2 linked regions of the Homo sapiens genome follow. The protein of the gene in region 1 purifies or fractionates together with the protein of each later gene. This does not show direct contact. Each region holds a gene or a part of one and is shown on either strand. Other genes may lie near its edges.

The links. The genes of interacting proteins can lie anywhere in the genome.
Region 2: the proteins of SCAMP2 (region 1) and ANKRD13A purify together in Homo sapiens (affinity purification with mass spectrometry; 2 studies listed by BioGRID and IntAct, with this or other methods). This does not show direct contact.

What each region holds. Positions count from the first base shown.
Region 1 is NC_000015.10:74,870,354-74,877,226, forward strand, and holds the start of SCAMP2 (secretory carrier-associated membrane protein 2), read right to left. Parts: upstream 3,013-6,873; 5' UTR 2,903-3,012; coding exon 2,846-2,902; intron 1-2,845. UniProt on the Homo sapiens protein: Functions in post-Golgi recycling pathways. Acts as a recycling carrier to the cell surface.
Region 2 is NC_000012.12:110,002,423-110,009,457, reverse strand, and holds part of ANKRD13A (ankyrin repeat domain-containing protein 13A), read right to left. Parts: intron 1-7,035. UniProt on the Homo sapiens protein: Ubiquitin-binding protein that specifically recognizes and binds 'Lys-63'-linked ubiquitin. Does not bind 'Lys-48'-linked ubiquitin.

The DNA.
Region 1 (6,873 bases):
CATTTTTAGACAACTGACTTCCTCTCTGTCAGACAGCAGCAGACTTTTTATTTCTGATTCTGAGAGGACAAAAAAACACACATAAAAAATGGAAAATCATCACATACAACATACACCATAAGGCTACAAGATCCTACTAAAACCCAAACCCCAGTATTATACAGCAGTTTTGTAATTAAAGTCTGTTACCAGAAGACATTGGCAGAAAAAAAAAATGCAAATCTTCTTTCTTTACTCAATAGAGATGACTGTTTGCCTTACATAAGAGACAAGGTCCTTGCAAACGCTCTGTCAAGAAACATTAAGCTACGAGAGGAATGTTCAGAATTCCCTGATGTTCTAAGGAACAAGCTATCAGAATTTGCCCTGAGGGCTCCTGTTGGCTAAGACACCTTGAGACCAAGAAAGAAGCAAAACATTTTCACTCTCCTGACAGCGTATAATTATTTAGTTCAAGTCTCCTTTGATTTTGCTCTGACCCTTGAAGCGATTCAAAGTGGGAAAACTCATGCTGTGAATGACAGGAAGGACTCCTTCAAGGACTTCTCTGACACCTGCAGGAAACTTAAAAGCTGCCAATGACCAAAATAAAGGACAAGCAGGGTGAGTTAATGTGCCTGGTGACATCCTGACAGAGCAGAATATCAGGGCTCATAATTCACCAGTCAGCACAAACAAGCTTCCCTAGAACGGGTTTTGAGCAGACGTGAAACAAGAGGCATAGGAGCTCTGGAGGTAACAGTTCAGCCCCTCATGGTGGAAAAAGATCATCCCTGTGCTCTCAGCTGAAAGGCAGAAAGGTGTGGGCTTTAAGTAGGAAGACTGTCCTGTGGCTCATGCCTGTAATCATAGCACTTTGAGAGGCTGGGGCCAGAGGATTGCTTGAGACCAGGATTTCGAGACCAGCTTGGGCATCACAGCGAGACCCCTTCTCTACAAAAATTTTTTTTAAAAGGAGTCAGGCCCAGTGGCACATTCTTGTAGTCCCAGCTACTCAGGAGACTGAGGTGGGATTCAAATAATCATTTGAATCCTGGAGGTCAAGGCTGCCATGACCTCCACTGTGCTACAGCCTGGGCGACAGAGTGAGACCCTGCCTTAAAAAAGGAAGAAAGAGGGCTGGGCGCAGTGGTTCATGCCTGTAATCCCAGCACTTTGGGAGGCCGAGGCAGGTGGATCACCTGAGGTCGGGAGTTCGAGACCAGCCTGACCAACGTGGAGAAACCCCGTCTCTACTAAAAATACAAAATTAGCCGGTCGTGGTGGTGCATGCCTGTAATCCTAGCTACTCAGGAGGCTGAGGAAGGAGAATTGCTTGAACCCAGGAGGCTGAGGTTGCAGTGAGCCGAGATCGCGCCACTGCACTCCAGCCTGGGCAACAAGAGCAAAACTCTGTCTCAAAAAAAAGAGGCCAGGTGTGGTGGCTCACCCCTGTAATCCCAGCACTTTGGGAGGCTAAGGTGGGTGGATCACTTCAGGCCAGGAGTTTGAGACCAGTCTGGCCAATAAGGTGAAACCCCGTCTCTACTAAAAATACAAAAATTAGCCGGGTGTGGTGGTGCACACCTGTAATCCCAGTTTCTCGGGAGGCTGAAGCACGAGAATCACTTGAACCCAGGAGGCTGAGGCTGCAGTGAGCCGAGATCGCGCTACTGCACTCCAGCCTGGGCGACAGAGCAAGAATTGTCTCAAAAAACAAAACAAAACAAAACAAAAAAAAAGGAAAAGAAAGAAAGCAGGAAGATTGTTTCTTCCTTGATTGCTGTTCAAAAGGTCAGGCCAGGCGTGGTGGCTCACACCTGTAATCCCAGCACTTTGGAAGGCCGAGGCGGATGGATCACCTGAGGTCAGGAGTTTGAGACCAGCCTGGCCAACACGGTGAAACCCCGTCTCTACTAAAAGTATGAAAATTAGCTGGGTGTGGTGGCATACGCCTGTAGTCCCAGCTACTCAGGAGGCTGAAGCAGGAGAATTGCTTGAACTCGGGAGGCAGAGGTTGCAGTGAGCGGAAATCGTGCCAATGCACTCCAGCCTGGGCGACAAAGCGAGACTCCGTCTCAAAAAAAAAAAAAAAAGTCAGGCCAGCTCACACGTCAGTGCATCTCAACTATGTTGCCACCACACACAGTTCCATCAGACAAACGTTCCCTGTGGGTCCAGAATTTTTCACAGTCCCCCGCACCTCTCCTCTCTCCCTAACCCGGGCTCTCCTATCTGGTCAAAACCCACTCCAAACTAGACCCATGGCCAAAATGTGGAATTCTTATCAAGGCCATTTTTCAACTTGGGCTACCTTCCCGCCCTCTCCCATCTTTCTTTCCCTGACAAATCTCAGGGGCTCTCCTGTACTTTATACACTAGTTTGGCTGGTGGTGGAGCGGTGGCAGGTGTCCTGGGCTTTTCCCACATTTTTCCCCTCCACCAGAGGCTTCACCACCTCCTCATATGTTGCTGTCACCCCCTCTTCTAAAGTGACTCAAGACAGGTGTCTATCCAAGAATGAGGGAATGCGATAGCCACATTTCGCTTCTCCCTGACGCTAGGAGACTTCCGGAAGGGTCCGACCGTACCTGCTCCAGTCCCCTTCCCTAGCACAGCCCAGCCTCCGGGTGCTAGAAGACCCCACTGTCTCCAACACTTCAGCGCCCCGCCTCCTCTGCAGTTCCACCTGCTGCTAGTCGCGCCCCTCACGCGTTACGATAGGCCAGACCTCAAAGCCCGCTCTCCCATTGGGCAGATGACCCGTCCCTCCTACGCCACGTCTCCCGGCTCTAGCGAGAGGCCCGGGCGGCGGCCGTGGGCCCTAGGGAAATCTGAGAGCTGGATGGCGGGAGAGGGGCTCTACCTGGAAGGGGTTTACATCCACTGGGTCCGCGAAGGGGTTGGTGTCGAAAGCCGACATGGTGATCGGGGGCCAGCGGGCGAACTCCGCGAACGCTGCTGCCTCCGGGCACCCAGACCCAGCGGCGCTTCGTGTAGACCCTCCACTTCCGGGAGCGAGGCAGCGGTTCTGGCGCAGGCGCGATGCCCTCCCCCGAGGGCGTGGCCCTATGACGGCACCGGGGTCGCTCCGCCCCCCCCCCCCCCCCCCCCGCCCAGCCCACAATAGTGCGGTGGGTGGGCATTCGGCTTCCGTCCACATCTTCGCTCTGCTGGGGATTCAGGGGTCTTGGCTGCGCGGAGCGTCTACGGAGCCAGAGGCGTGGCCGGAGTCCTTCCCAACTGCCTATCAATCTGACACCTTCCAATTTTATGTTTCTAAAGCAAACTCTCAAAAGTGGGACAGGAAACAGCCCCTTCACTTCTCTGTAGACCAAGTTTGGGAAGAAGTCCAAACTGATCCCTGGGCAAAGGACAGGGGTGACAGGTGAGGCCAGAGGCCTTGGGAGAACTAGGAAAGCGCTTCTTCTGCAGAACGTGCTCGGGGAAAGAGAAGTGCCAGGACCATCCAGCAGTCCTCCACCCGAGCTGAGCCTGCTTCTTCTAGGGCTGCTCGCCCTCTGATGTCGTTTCATCGTTTTAGGGACGAGGGTTCCTGGGCCCATCAGCTTTGGGACCTGAGTTGGGACTTGAACCTGGACATCAAACATTTATGAAGTGACTCACGGAATTCAGCAACACAGCCTCAATCATGGGGGAGGTGGCTGCTTCACTCTCCACAGCTCCGCTTTCCCCCGCCCCCGCCCCCCACAGGGTCTCACTGTCGCCCAGGCTGGAGTGCAGTGGTGCAATCATGGCTCACTGCAGCCTCGAGCTCCTGGGCTCAAGCAATCCTCCCACCTCAGCCTCCTGAGTAGCTGGGACTACAGCTGGTCACCACCATACCCAGCTAATTTATGGATTTTTTGTAGAGATGGGGATCTCACTATATTGCCCAGGCTCGTCTCAAACACCTGGGCTGAAGTGATCCTCCCGCCTTGGCTTCCTAAAATGCTAGGATTATACTCATGAACCACTGTCTGGCCAAATCCACCTTATTTATTTGGATCTGTCTGGTATTATTCATCTCTGCTGTCACCGAATCCCAGCCACTGTCATTTTTACCCTGAACTAATACAGTGCTGTTAATTGGTCTATTGTTCTTCATGTTGTAATCAAAGATATGTTTAAAGGGGGCAAAATTATCACAGAACTTTGTTAAAATTTTTCAATTAATTTCCATAAAGGGCTGGGTGCGTGGCTTATGCCTGTAATCCCAGTACTTTGGGAGGCAGAGGTAGGAGGATCACTTGAAGCCAGGAGTTCGAGACCAGCCTAGGCAACATACCAGGACCCTGGCTCTACAAAAAAAAAAAAAAAAAAAAAAAAATATATATATATATATATATATATATATATATACATATACATATCTCACACACACACGTAATTAGCTAGGCATGGTGGCCTGTGCCTGTACTCCCAGCTACTTGGGAGGCTGAGGCAGGAGGACTGTTTGAGCTCAGGAGGTCAAAGCTGCAGTGAGCCATCTTTGCACCACTACACTCCAGCTGAGTGACAGAGTGAGACCCTGTCTCAGTTAAAAAAAAAAAAAAAAAAATCAGGCCAGGCAAGGTGGCTCATGCCTGTAGTCGCAGCACTTTGGGAAGCCAAGGCAGGCAGATCACCTGAGGTCAAGAGTTCGAGACCAGCCTGGCCAATATGGTGAAACCTCATCTCTACTAAAAATACAAAATTAGCTGGGTGTGGTGGTGCACACCTGTAATCCCAGCTACTTGGGAGGCTGAGGCAGGAGAATCGTTTGAACCTGGGAGGCGGAGGTTGCAGTGAGCTAAGATTGCAACATTGCACTCCAGCCTGGGCAAAAAGAGTGAAACTCTGTCTCAAAAAAAAAAAAAAAAAATCATAAAGGCCCAAATTCTTAGTTTGTCTTCAAGGTCCTAAAGGATCTGCCCCTACGTTTCTCCCCTTCTGACCCCTTCTAGCCCCCAACCCCCACCCACTGTTCCAGCCATGCAAGTTCTTTTCAGTTGCTCAAACCTTCCTTGTGCCCTCCTGTCTCAGGGCCTTTACACATGTGTTCCTTCTACCTGGTATGCACTTAACCCATGCCCCACTATCATCCTCTGGTTAACCTCTCCTTACCCTTTAAATGCAAGTTCAGATGCCTTTCTTCAGGAGTAGCTTCCCTTCACTCTCTTGGTTACATCATCACCTCATACCCAACATAAGCTCTCCTATTGCCCTGTACTTTTCCTTCACAATACCCATTGCAGATTGTAATTAATACTAGTATAGGTGGTTCTTTATGCCTGTATCCTCCGCTAGACTGAAAGCTCCATGAGGGTAGGGCTGAGGTCTGTTTTGCTCACTGTTGTGTTTCTGTCACTAACATAGTATAAAGCACATGATACACATTTATTAATTTATTTTTTGTGGGTTTGGGGTTTTTTTTTTTTCCAGACAAAGTCTCACTCTGTCACCCAGGGTGGAGTACAGTGGCATGATCTCAGCTCAGTGCAATCTCCGCCTTCCAGGTCCAAGAGATTCTGCTGCTTTAGCCTCCCAAGTAGCTGGGATTACAGGCACTCACCACCACACCCAGTTAATTTTTTTTTTTTTTTTTTTGTAATTTTAATAGAGACTGGGTTTCACCATCTTGGCCAGGCTGGTCTTGAACTCCTGATTTCAAATGATCTGCTCGCCTCGGCCTCCCAAAGTGCTGGGATTACAGGCGTGAGCCACTGTGCCCAGCCCACATGCATCATACACATTTAGTAACTATTTTACTGTTTCCCTGCATCCATTTATTTTGTTTGTTTATTTAGAAACAGGGTGTTACTTTGTTGCCCAAGCTGGTGTTGAACTCCTGGCTTCAATTGATCCTGCCACTTCCGCCTCCCAAAGTACTGGGCCTACAGGTACACACCACTGCGCCTGGTCATCTGTTTCTTTCACCTTCCTCTCCCATCTAAATCCTGACTATCCTTTAGGGTTTAGCTCAGCTTTACTTCGGGAAATATCTGCACACAAGTGGGAGGATGGGGAAGGATCCATTTTGTATCCCCTTAGAAATTGCCTGTCCCCAAGCCTCTATGGCCACCCCTCAAGGGCAGCAGACAGATCTTTGCTGTCTGCTCTCTGCAGCCTCAGAGGAGAACAGTCCACACCCCACAAGGCAGTCCTGCCTGCTCTGGGTCTGCTGCAGCCAAGTACAATGCTGGGCTGGTGAAGAAAGAATGAAACTTAATTACAACCAATGTGGTGGCTGCCCATCTATCTGTCTAATTCCCTACAAGAGAGACATCATTCATTTATTCTACAAGAGAGGAGGTATAGAGAATGCAGCTCTTTGCTTTTAAACCAGTTATTTCACCTCTCCAAGACCCATTTTTCTCATCTTGATCTTGAAACCACCTTTGCAAAAATTATAACTGAGGAAATTATGACAGTGGGAGAGATTAGACCTAACCTACTCCATCTTGCTTCTGACCTTTAAGTGGTCCTTGTTCATTCCTGGGTGTAGGCTGAACTAACCTTGGGAAGGAATTTATAGTTTAACTCTGAAACAAAATTGATTATAGCCCTTTTCCAAAAAAAAAAAAAAAAAAAAATCCCTTCTTGCCTGGGGACCAGTCTGCCTTTCTGGACTAATAAATTAGCTACAAGATTAGAAACTATGGTTTAGGGACCATGCAGCCTTCAGCTGTGAGTCTGAACCTCCCCAGATTGCTCCTGAGAATAACATCACTATTGTAAAACCTAAGATCAGTGCTTGAGATATTTTGCAGACCTTGCACTTGATGGATCTGCTGACACCACCTCCAACAGTAATGTAGCTCAGACAGTTCTGCCATCCCACTCAGGAACAGAAGACAGCAAGAAAAACTCACTTCGACCCCCTATGATTCCATCTCCAACCCGACCAATCAG
Region 2 (7,035 bases), on another chromosome or scaffold:
ACTTACTAAAATCAGGAATTAAAGATGGAATATTAGCAACTCTACAGAAATAAAAAGGATTATAAAAGAAAACTATGGGCCGGGTGCAGTGGCTCATGCCTGTAATCCCAACACTTTGAGAGGCCGAGGCGGGTGGATCACTAGAGGTCGGGAGTTCGAGACCAGCCTGACCAACATGGAGAAACCCCGTCTCTACTAAAAATACAAAATTAGCCGCGCGTGGTGGCACATGCCTGTAGCCCCAGCTACTCAGGAGGCTGAGGCAGGAGAATTGCTTGAACCCGGAAGGCGGAGGTTGTGGTGAGCCGAGATTGTGCCATTGCACTCCAGCCTGGGCAACAAGAGTAAAACTTCGTCTCAAAAAATAAAATAAAATAAAAGAAGACTATGAACAACTGTATGCCAACAAATTAGACAACTTAGATGAACAAGATAAATCCCTACAGAAATGCAAACTAGCAAAACTGACTCAAAAAGAAACCAAAAATCTGAATAAGTTTATAACAAGAGATTGAATTAGTAATTTTAAAACTGCCCACCAAAAAAAATGCAGGCCCAGATGGGTTTTTTTTCCAGACTGAGTCTCGCTCTGTCGCCCAGGCTGGAGTATAGTGGCACAATCTCAGCTCACTGCAACCTCCACCTCCCAGGTTCAAGTGATTCTTGTGCCTCAGCCTCCTGAGTAGCTGGGATTACAGGTGCCCACCACCACACCTGGCTAATTTATGTACTTTTAGTAAAATTGGGGTTTTGCCATGTTGGCCAGGCTGGTCTTGAACTCCTAACCTCATGTGATCTGCCCACCTCAGCCTCCCAAAGTGCTGGGATTACAGGCACGAGCCACCATGCCTGGACTTCACTGGTGAATGCTATTAAACATTTAAAGAATTAATACCAATGTTTCACAAACTTTTCCAATAAATAGATGAAGAAGGAAAACTTTCCAATTCATTTTATGAACCCACTATTATCCTGATGACAAATGCGTCACAAGAAAAGAAAACCACACACTAATATCTCTTATGATATAGATGCAAAAATCCTCCACGATATACTGGCAAACTAAATTCAGCAACATATAAAAAGGGTATTATACACTATGACCAACTGAGACTTATCCTACAAATATAAGAATGGTATAACTTCAGATAGTCAATTAACGTATTACACCATATCATAGGATAAAACAAAATACATGATCATCTCAACAGCTGCAGCAAAAACATCTGACAAAACTCCAACATCCCTTCATGATTAAAAGAAAAAAACCAAAACTCTCAACATACTAGGAATAAAAGGAAACTTCCTCAAAAAGCATCTCTAAAAAACCCACAACTAACATCATAGTTAATGGTGAAAGACTGGATGTTTCCCCTCTAAGATGAGGAACAAGATGAGGATGTCCTCTTTCACCATATCTAGTCAACATTGTACTAGAGATTCTAGTCATGGCAACTGGGCAAGAAAAATAAATAAAAAGCATCCAGAATGGAAAGGAAGATGACATGATCTTGTGTATAAAATCCTAAGGAATCCACCAAAAAACTATTAGAACTATTAAATGAGTTCAGCAAGGTTTCAGGACACAAGATCAATAACTAATCAATTATATTTCTACATACTTGTAATGAGCAACTCAAAAATGAAATTAAGACAACAATTCCATCTATAATAGCATCAAAAAATAAAACATTTAGGAATAAATATGACACAATAAATATAAAACTTACATACTCTTAAACCATAAAACATTGTTTAAAAAAAATTAAAGAAGAACTGGCCTGGTGTGGTGGCTCACACCTGTAATCCCAGCACTTGGGGAGGCTGAGGTGGGCGGATCACCTGAGGTCGGGAGTTCGAGACCAGCCTGACCAACATGGAGAAACCCCACCTCTACTAAAAATACAAAATTAGCCGGGCGTGGTGGCACATGTCTGTAATCCCAGCTACTTGGGAGGCTGAGGCAGGAGAATCGCTTGAACCTGGGAGACGGAGGTTGCAGTGAGCCAAGATTGTGCCATTGAACTCCAGCCTGGGCAACAATAGTAAAAACTCCATCTCAAAAAACAAACAAACAAAAAAAACCTCAAAAAATTAAAGAAGACCTAAATAAATTGAAAAACATCCTTATGCTCATGGTTTAAAAGACAATATTGTTAAAATGACAAAACTCTCCAAACTGAGGTATAGATTCAATTCAACTCCTATCAAAATCTCAGCTGGCTTTTTGCTGACATTGACAAGCTGATCTTAGAATTCATGTGGAAATGCAAGAAACCTAGAATAGCCACCTTGAAGAGAGAGGTCTGAGGACTCACATTTCACGCTTGCCAATTTTAAAACGTACTACACAAAGCTACAGCAATCAAGACAACGTGGTACTGGCATAAGGACAGACATACAGGTCAATGGAATACAATTTAGAGTCCAGAAATAAACCCACACATTTATGGTCAATTGATTTTCAACAAGGGTGCCAAAATAATTCATTGGGAAAGAACTGTCCTTTCAACAAGTGCCGCTTGAACAACTGCATATCTACATGCAAAAGAACAAAATTTTGGCTGAGCTCATTGGCTCATCCCTATAATCCCAGCACTTTGGGAGGCCAAGGCGGGAGGATCACCTGAGGTAGGGAGTTCGAGATCAGCCTGATCAACATGGAGAAACTCCATCTCTACTAAAAATACAAAATTAGCCAGGCATGGTGGCGCATGCCTGTAATCCCAGCTACTCGGGAGGCTGAGGCAGGAAAATTGCTTGAACCTGGGAGGCGGAGGTTGTGGTAAGCCGAGATCACACCATTGCACTCCAGCCTAGGCAACAAGAGCGAAACTCCATCTCAAAAAAAAAAAGACAACCCATGGAATGGGAGAAAATATTTGCAAATCACATACTGATAAGGGCCTACTATCCAGAATATGCAAAGAACCTTTACAACTCAACAAGTCAAATAACTCAATTTTTAAATGGGCAAAGGATTTGAGATGACATTTCTCCAAGGAAGATACACAAATTGCCAATAAGCACATGAAAAGATGCTCAACATCATTAATCATAAGAGAAATGCGAATCAAAACCACAATGAGATGCCACTTCACACCCACTAGGATGCGTACAAACAAAACAACAGATAATACCAAGTGTTGACAAGGATGTGAAGAAACTGGAATCTCATACACTGCTGGTGGAAATGTAAAATAGTGCAGCCACTTCGAAAAATTGCTGGCAGTTCCGCAAAAAGTTAAAACATAGAGTAACTACATGACCCAGCAATTCCTCTCCAAGGTATATACCCAAGATAAATGAAAACATATACCCATACAAAAACTTATACATGGGGCTGGGTGCAGTGGCTCATGCCTGTAATCCCAGAACTTTGGGAGGCCAAGGTGGGCTGATCACTTGAGGTCAGGAGTTCAAGACCAGCCTGGCCAACATGGTGAAACCCCATCTCTACTAAAAATACAAAAATTAGCCAGGCGTGGTGGTGCACACCTGTAATCCCAGCTACTAGGGAGGCTGAGACAGGAGAATCGCTTAAACCCAGGAGGCAGAGGTTGCAGAGAGCTGAGATCATGCCACTGCACTCCAGCCTGGGCAACAAAGCAAGCTGTCTCAAAAAAAAGGAAACCCACAAAAACATATACACAAATACACACAGCAGCGTTACTCATAATAGCCAAAAAGTGGCGACAACCCAAATGTCCATCAACTGACAAACGGAGAAACATTTTCGTCTAACAAACAAAACATAGTACATCCATGCAATGGAATATATTCAGTGATAAAAAGGAATTAAGCACCTGAAACATGCCACAACGTAGATGAACCTCCAAAACATTATGCTAAGTAAAAGAAGAAACAAAAGGCCACATATGATTCTATTTATATGAAATGTCCAGAATAGGCAAATCTAGAGACAGGAAGTAGGTTAGCAGGTTGCCTGGGCTGGAGGGGTTGGGGAGAAATGAGGAGTGACTACTACAGGTATGGGGTTTCTTTTTCGGGTGAGGAAAATATTACAGGGTGGGTGCAGTGGCTAACACCTGTAATCTTAGCACTTTGGCAGGCCAAGGCAGGAGGACTGCTTGAGCCCAGTCTGGGCAACATAGGGACACATTTTCTCTACAAAAAAATCTTTAAAAATTAGCCAAGCGTGGTAGTGCTTGCTTGCAGTCCTAGCTATTTGGGAGGCTGAGGTGGGAGGATTGCTTAAGCCGAGAAGGTCAAGGGTGCAGTGAGCTGTGATGGTGCCAGCCTAGGCAAGAGAGTGAGACCCTGTCTCAAAAACAACAAAAAAACAAAAAAGAAAGAAAAAGAAAAAAATTTCTGAAATTTGACAGTAGTGATAGTTGCATAACTCAGCAGATATACTAAAAACCATTGAATAACCTTTAAATGTAGATTATATAAGTGAACTATATCGCAATAAAAATCTTTTGAAAAAATCAATCTGTATATGTTTATACATAATACATAAAACGAATCTCTCATGTACTGTTTGACAAGTTGCTTAATTCCTCCTGAGCTTCAGTTTGCTCGCTTGTAAAACTGAACAATAAAAAAAACCTACCTTACAGTTCTTACAAGGGGAAAGTCCTTAACTTAGCACGGTGCTTGACACCACAGTAAGTGCTGAGAAGAGTTACCTGTTATTATCATACGCCCACACTATGTAGTTTCATATAGCTGTCACTTTCTCCCTAAAAGGGATTTGCTCAAATTGCATTACAGTTATTAGTGGGGCTTAGAATCTTCAACTAATAATATGAGTTCAGAGAACAAGGAGTTTCAGAATTTAGCTGGAATTCACTTTTTCTTTTGAGACAGAGTCTCCCTCTTGTTGCCCAGGCTGGAGTGCAATGGTGCAATCTTAGCTCACCGAGATCTTGGCTCACTGCAACCTCTGCCTCCCAGGTTCAAGCAATTCTCCTGCCTCAGCCTCCCGGGTAGCTGGGATTACAGGCATGCACCACCACGCCTGGCTAATTTTGTATTTTTAGTAGAGACGGGGTTTCTCTGTGTTGGTCAGGTTGGTCTCGAACTCCCGACCTCAGGTGATCCGCCCACCTCGGCCTCCCAAAGTGCTGGGATTACAGGCCTGAGCCACCACGCCCGGCTGGAATTCACTTTCGAAACTGATCATTTAGGTTTTCCTTTTAAGTTTCTTTAGCCATGAGCTATACCCAAATAAAAATACCCATCCTCCTTTAACTAGGAGTTTCCTTCCTATTTGCTCATTTCAGCTCATCCACTTTTCTTGCTCAAAAGCCTTAAAAAAAATTTATTTTTTTTTTGAGATGGAGTCTCATACTGTTGCCGGGCCTAGAGTGCAATGGTGCGATTTTGGCTCACTGCAACCTCCGCCTCCCAGGTTCAAGCGATTCTCCCACCTCAGCCTCCCAAGTAGCTGGGATTACAAGCACCCGCCACCATGCCCAGCTAATTTTTCATATTTTTAGCAAAGATGGGGTTTCACTATGTTGGCCAGGCTAGTCTTGAACTCCTGACCTCATGATCCACCTGCCTTGGCCTCCCAAAGAGCTGGGAGTACAGGCGTGAGCCACCGTGCCCAGCCAAAAAAAATTTTTTTTTAAGGAGACGGAGTCTTACTATATTGGCCAGGCTGGTCTTGAACTCCTGTCCTCAAGCACTGACCCCACCTCAGCCTCCTCAATCAAAAGCCCTCTTTACTATCTTGCCATCCTCCTGCCGAGCTCTGAGGCCAGGCTGCAGAACCAGACAACTGGACACCCCTTCCAGCTTGCCCACTAGCCTCAGGTGAATTATCAGTTCCCCTGTGCCTTGGTACCTGGCATGCAGGAAGTGCTTCATAAACTCACTGTCACCTTTAGGGGGACTCCAGCAAGAGGCTGCTGGCTAGTCCTCCTCTCTCTCAACACAGACAACCACCCTCACTCCTCTTCACTCTCAGACCATCCTGGTCCTGTGTGGCCCCCACGCTGAGTCAGTGGAAACAGGAATCTTGAGGCCAGTTTCCTAAGGTGAGCTTGAACCCCCGATGACCAAGGGGGCACATGAGGAGAGCAGGCTCTAGGCTCTTCATCTTGGATGCCTAGCCCATGGCTCAGCGATTTGAATCTGTGCCCGGGGCCTCACCTGGCCTGCCCCAGGCTGGAGTGAGAACCCCAGGAATGTCCTCCTCTTACCTAGGTGCTATACTTTTCACCTGCTGGCTTCCTAAACAGGGAGCCTGGCTCTAGAGTCAGGCCTCATTTGCCACCCTCCACCTCACACAACCCAGGTTTTCCAACCCTGTCTAAGGTACACTGACTCACCTTTGCATCTGTCCCCTTAAGTGTTCATGTCTCACCATCAGTAAGAAGGCCAAAGAAGTTTAACAGACTTCTTTAGCTAAGCGGCCAACGACATAAGCAGAACACAAACAGTTTCAACTTCAGCAACCAACTTCAAGGCCCCACTGAATATTAATGAGCTGATGGGTTAAGAGGCACTTTATTAAATGCCTCTGCTGATCAAATGAAGGCCTGAAACAATCTGGTAGTTGGCATAGTTACACAACTGCCTGCTATTAGTGAGACAGTGGGATTGGGGCTGGCTCACACACACAGAAACACGTGCTTATCCTCTTCATCTGGATAAACTTGATTCTTTCTTGTGTTGCTGTTCCTGGAACAGGAACAAAAAACCTGGAAAAAAATTCTTACAGCTATCAGTATACATGCTCCAAGTCTCAATCAGGTGATAGACGGAATGAGGAAACTGACAGCAGAAACTCACCAGCAAACAAAACATTAAGGGAAACAGCCACTTTATTGCTGGGGTGATAAGAATTTTTTGGGTTTTTTTTGTTTTTTGAGTCGGAGCCTCGCTCTGTCTCCCAGCCTGGAGTGCAGTGGCACGATCTTGGCTCACTGCAACCTCAGCCTCCTGGATTCAAGCGATTCTCCTGCCTCAACCTCCTGAGTAGCTGGGATTACAAGCACGTGCCACCACATCCAGCTATTTTTGTATTTTTAGTAGAGACGGGGTTTCACCGTGTTGGTCAGG